2 separate regions of the Homo sapiens genome follow, and region 2 is linked to region 1. The links come from fine-mapping of genetic effects on gene expression. A gene starts in region 1. The other region holds a variant in brackets. All regions are shown on one strand. Distances are from middle to middle. Region 1 holds the start of MARCO (macrophage receptor with collagenous structure). Region 2 overlaps MARCO (macrophage receptor with collagenous structure).

Region 1 (2,911 bases):
AGTGCAGTGCCCTGCTGGAAATAGGTGCTGAGTATGCTTGATCAGCTGACTTTGCTTGAACATCTTCAGTCTCTTAAACAGTCATGTATCCAGAATGTTGCATTCTGAGAAGTTCTAAATAGCCAATGATTATTATAGCCATTAGCACTCACACCTTTCTCTGTTATTACACTGTAAATTCCTAGAGGCAGAGCCCCAGACGCTTCATCTTTGTGCGCTGAAAATTCCAGGCAGGGACCTGGGCAGACAGGTGTGGGATGAGAAGGACACTCTGGCCAGGAGATAAAGCCACCAATTTTCCTGCATAGACAACTTCCAGCAAAGCCTGGGAGTGGAAATGACTGATCAACTTGGAAGATGATCCCAAGAGAACGTTCTAGACTAGGAAATCAGAGCTCATTTGTGGAATGCAAGCCCACCCATGACTTCAAATGCTACAAATTCTAGAAGATTTTAAAAATGCATCACCTGTTGAATGCTGAGTGAGAAAATAAAGACAACAGAGTTGACTGAATATTACAGACCTGAGTTTAACCTAAGACAAACTAATTATGAAGCTATGAACATATTTCAGTCAACATGAAATACAGAATATGTTTCCTGACCAGCACATCAGTTATAACAGAAATCCCCTTAAAGAATTTTAAAGAAGCTGTGTTTTGAAAACTGTCATGCTTGGCTTCAGTTTTGTGGTCCCCTTTCAGTGCCCCTGTTTTGCGTTTTCATTGTATCACCCAACCTGTGTGTCAGAATAAGACATTCATTAAAAAAAGGGGACATTTAATAAGCATTGGCATTTTTTCAAGGGAAAATATTTAAATATGATTAAAACAATAGTGAAGCTAAGAAAAACCTGACTATATGCTAAAAATACAGCATCTATTATTAGCATTCCAGAAATTCCAAATTGAAGCACTCCAGACAGTATTAGTGATGATTACGTGCAAAATGCAGCAATAAGCCAAACCTAGACTTTCTATTGACTTGTCTATTTTCGTATCTCGCTAGCAGAAAGACTACATTTCTGGTCATTTCCATTATTGGGGAATCGTACTTTACCATTGATTTCGAAAGGCTCCATTGCAATTTGGTGAAAAGCAGCTTGTTGGGTCTCACTCAAGAGCTCGTCCTCCTTGAGAATTTTCTTATTTCTCATTGCCAAGCTTTATAGATGGCCAAAGTCCTGGAGCCAGCAGAAATGCTCCCCTCAAGAGGAACCACTTGGAGAAAGATCCTTCCCATCGAACCACTGCAGCTGGTTGTAAACCTCGCAGCACTTCCCTTTGGCTCTGATTTCAGAATTTGCAGGATGTTTCCTGACATGATCAGGATTGGACATTTCTCAAACACGGGCTATTCACATGTGGATCTCCCACACAGTGCTGCTGCTTGTTAAGGGGGATCGAGGAGGCTTTGGGACACAAGTTACGGGCCTCTGAATGCACCCGTCACTCCCAGGTCCCTGAGACCCAAAAGCTGGATGGCTCCAGAGAGGGCCAACCAAGCCCTGCCATGGGCCCAGACTCAGCTCTCTGTCCCAGGACCTCTCCAGCCCACAGTGAAATCTCCCTTCTCTGACCTGCCTCAACCTTTAGAGTTCATCCTTGCTGCTCAAAGTGTGGTCCATGGACCAGCAGTATTAGTATCACCTGAGAACTTGTTAGAAATGCAAGTTCACTTGTTCTAACAATGAGTCTCTGGTCCCACCCCATCAGATCAAATCCAAATCTACAGTTTAACTAGATCCCCAGGTGATTTATATACACATTACAGTTTGAGAAGCCTTGCTCTGAACCACACATTTTAGCACTTAGTATTTCTTCTTGTAGTTTTCCCATGTTCTCTCTCTGTGTGTGTACACATGTGTGCACATGTGTACATGTGTTACAGGTGTCCTTGTCCAGGCCCCAGTGAGATCTGAGCTCCTTAAGGAAAGTAGCTTCTCCCCTCTCTCCCTCCCGTCAGGCATCTCTACCAGGGATGCTGTATAGCATGGTGGTTAAGACACAGACACTAAGAGCTAGAATGCCTGGCTTCAAATTCCACCTCTTCCACATAGGGGCTGTCTGGCAGTAGGCAAATCACTTGAGCTTTGAGCATCTCACTCTTCTGTTTGTATAAATAAGGAAGATATGAATTTCGTGAGCCTTAAATGAATTAAATCATATAAGGTGGCTAGGATGGAAGTATTAGGTAATAAACACTATGGTCATGTTGTTGTTATTATCATTAGAGACATTGTGAGCCTGCTGGGCACCGAGGAGATGAAGAAATGGCCTTTTTTCATGAAAGATATTCACAGTCTACCATGCAAGATGGTTGCGGCTACAACTACATTCCAGAAAATTGCTGTGAAGTGCGGCAAAGGTTGATGTCCCTGAAAAGACAGAAGTGCCGGGAGGCAGGGGAGACAGGGCAGAAATATGACAAATAGCTTTATCATCTGAATCAAGAGATATCAGATACCAGAGCTGGGCTTAAAAGGATAATGGGGGATTGATCCAGATCAAGATGAGGCAAAGGCCCTCCAGGGAGGAAGGAGGGCAGGTGCAGCCTCTCAGAGGTGGGACAGCCTGGAGCAGGGGAGCCGTAGACTTTTGGCCTATTTGAAATGTAAGAGGTGAGGAAGACAGGTGGCAGGAAGTGAAGCTGTGCCAGGCGAAGTCACTTTCTTTGGCCCGTGGTATGTCAGAAAGTGAAAGGGGATGAAACTCAGGAAAGTGAGCTCCTAGCAGTGCCCTGAAAAGCAGAGGTCCCCCGTGGCGCCCACAATTTCAACATTCAGGAAGTCACTGGTTCCGCCAGAGGACAAGCAGCAGAAGCCAGGACAGAAAAATTTAAAGAGGAAAATTGGAAATGAGGAAGTGATGGCTCCAGCTAGAGTCTGGGGGGTAGACAGGACCAGATAATT
Region 2 (2,911 bases), 40 kb before region 1:
AGCTTGGGGCTTGGGGAGTAAGCACAATGCTCCTGTGGGTAAAATCATGTTTTACCTCCAATACTCTTGGTTAGTTGAGAACCGTTAGTCTGGCAGTGGGGGTGGGGGCAGAGGGTGACTACTATTTACAACCGAGAGATGAAAGCAATCATCTCCATGAAATCACACAGAAGGCTCAGGGGCAAGAGAGCATCAGGTCTCATAGTCAGATGGACTCTGAGACTGGGGACCAGAGAAGATGGAATTATAAGATCAGAATGGACAGTGAACAAGTCAGGAACATCTGACGACTATACCCAGATGGAAACTTTCCTATGGTGAGACCCAGCTAGTGGCCTTCAGGTGGCATCCACATGGGATCAGGTAGCAGGGATCCTCCCAAACACACTGTCCATAAAAAACACAATTGCTCTGGGGCTCGACAGATTACAAGGACAGAGAGGGTGTAAAACTGCGCTTGCCATGGCTCCCGACAGCTTTCAAAGAAACACAAAAGCTCAAGCCCAGAGCCCAAGGTTTGCCAGGAGGTGGTGATGAATGAATCAATCAATTGATTAGAGCTGTGGAGGGCCAGGTCCCAGTGTAGGTCTCTAGCACAGCACGGGGGTGAGGGCATCCAGGTTGTCTGACACAAGCGTGACCTTCTCAGGCAGAGGACAGGGGTGGAGGCAGACTGTCTACAGATGTCCTTGGCAGACATGCAGCTTTACATCACAACCCTGCCTTCCCCATTGCCCCTCCTGCCCGCTCTTGGCTTTCCAATGTGCAACAGTTCTCCACAGAAATGCCCAATCAGAGTGTGCCCACATCATCTGGCAACAGTCTCTGTTCACTGCAATACCCTGCATGTCAGGGCAGAAAGGCAGGAATTGATCTTATGCATTGTGATAGTGGTCTGGACTTTCTAGACCAAGCAAGCACACTGTGACTGGACCAAAACGGCTTATAAAGTAGACTATATTGGTACAATGGTTTACGACCTAGACTAAATAGACATGATGGTATATAACCTAGACTAACCTAGACTCTGTTGGCATTATGGTATAAACTAGTCTTTGGCTAGTGTGGGTCAGTGCTCCCAGGCTGCCCCCCTAGGAAAATGTGGAAGAAGAGTTTTCTGGACCCTCCAGCCTGAATCTAGACTCTTGGACCCCCTCTTAGGGGCCCCAATGAAGGGTTAGCAGGAGACAGCAGAAAC[G/A]TACAGCTGGGAGGCAGACCAGGGAGATGGTATGGGCAAGGTGCTTTGCTCTCCTCCGTGATGCTGGAGGTTTGGTCATGGCATTCAAGGACTTTCATGAGCTCTGAGAAGAGAAAGAACAGCCCTAGGCCCTTGGGCTTAAGGGGTCCTGGCAGGGGCAACTGCCCCCATAACCAGGAACCTCAGAGGCCAAGGCACAGAAGACCCTCTGCCTCCTCCGTGGGCCTAAGAAGAAGCAGTTTTTCTCTCCATCCATCCTGCCACCCAGCAAGCCCACCTACTCACCCACTGCACCCTCTGTTACCTGTGTCCCCTTTGCTTCCTTTCAGGCCTGTGGCTCCTGGACTCCCGGGGCTCCCTGGAAGTCCTGGACAACAGACACCACAGAGAGCATAAGGGCTGGACTAGGCAGGTTTTCACACATCACTCCCTGTGCCCACCATAGGACCCAGGACCTCACCTGCTCGCCCAGGGGAGCCAGCACTGCCAGGCTCACCCTTGGCACCTGGGTGTCCCACTGCACCAGGAGGGCCCGGAACACCCTGCAGTCCAGGTTGTCCTGAAAGGAAAGTAGTGACTGCCAGGCTGTGGTGGTTGGCAGAGGGCCCAGATACCCCAACCCCCAGTGCTTCTGTTTTCAGCAGTGAGACATGTACCTCTTAACACCTTACAGTCCTCTTGGCAGCTTTAACACCTCTCTTTAGAAGCCATGAGCTAGCCCTCTTAGTAGGAGGAAAATTATTCTCAGCAACTTACTAATCTTTTCCATCTGCAGGGCCTGGGACTTATGGACTTACTAGGAGCTCTGGGTGTGACTGTCCAACTCCACCCCCTGGGTGGCAAAGTGGGGTAAAGTCTAGAGAGAAACATCAGTGAGGCCTGCCCCCACCGCCCACTGGCTGCTCTGTTCCTCTTGGCCAGGGCCAGATGTCTAAAAAACCCCAGGTGTTCTGGGTGAATACTACAATGAAGCAAAAGATGGTGGTGTCTGGTCCCCAGCTTCACTCTGCCAGGGACAGTCGTAGCTGGGATGATGCCCAGATTCCTGTAGTTCTTACCTTGATCTCCTTTAGCTCCAGGAAAACCAGCCAAACCTAAGATGAAAAAGAACTTTTAGGAATTTTTTTTTCCTTTGGCTCAGCCAGCCAGAAAAAAAAAAAAAAGGAAATACCTAGAGGTCAGTGGATGTGACCACGTGCCCTCTTACCTGGTGGGCCTGGCCTCCCGAAGTCACCTTTACTCCCCTGGGCTCCAGGAGGCCCCATGACCCCTGCATCTCCTTTCATGCCCCTGTCCCCTTTGCTTCCTGAAAAACCAAAAAGTCTTGGTTAGTTGTGGGAGGAACTCCAATCAGGCCACCATGTCCTCCTCTGACACTTCCCATTCCACTGAAATCCCAAACCCTAAACTCCTTGAGCTCCTACTTGGTGCCCGCGAGTGGAAGATATGACCGCTGCCCTCAAGGAGTGCACCGCTTTGCCCCAGAGACAAGAAAGAAACTCATGAAAATTTGGTGAGGTGATCTGGTATGGCTGACAGTCAACAGAAAGCCCTGGTCCCCTTGGGAGGGACAATAGCCAAGGCTCAGCCAGCACTGTCTGGCTTGTTTTAGTGTCTGCATTTTGGCAATTATTTGAATTCACTTCAAAAATTGAAACCTGAGTATTCCGAAAAGCAGATCCCAAATGCTGAGAATAGCAACTCTGAGGCATC

The links.
Region 2: its variant is fine-mapped to the expression of MARCO in whole blood (TOPMed, PIP above 0.99).

The regions. Positions count from the first base shown.
Region 1 is chr2:118,940,546-118,943,456 of GRCh38, reverse strand. It overlaps MARCO (macrophage receptor with collagenous structure), which reads right to left and starts at 1,263. Exons shown (of 17, transcript NM_006770.4): 1 at 1,060-1,263. The coding sequence starts at 1,156.
Region 2 is chr2:118,981,002-118,983,912 of GRCh38, reverse strand. MARCO (macrophage receptor with collagenous structure) reads right to left here. Exons shown (of 17, transcript NM_006770.4): 9 at 2,406-2,504; 10 at 2,257-2,292; 11 at 1,659-1,757; 12 at 1,503-1,565. Among named protein-coding and RNA genes, the nearest start is that of MARCO, 40 kb to the right of the region's middle. The variant G/A (reference allele first, on the strand shown) is at 1,199.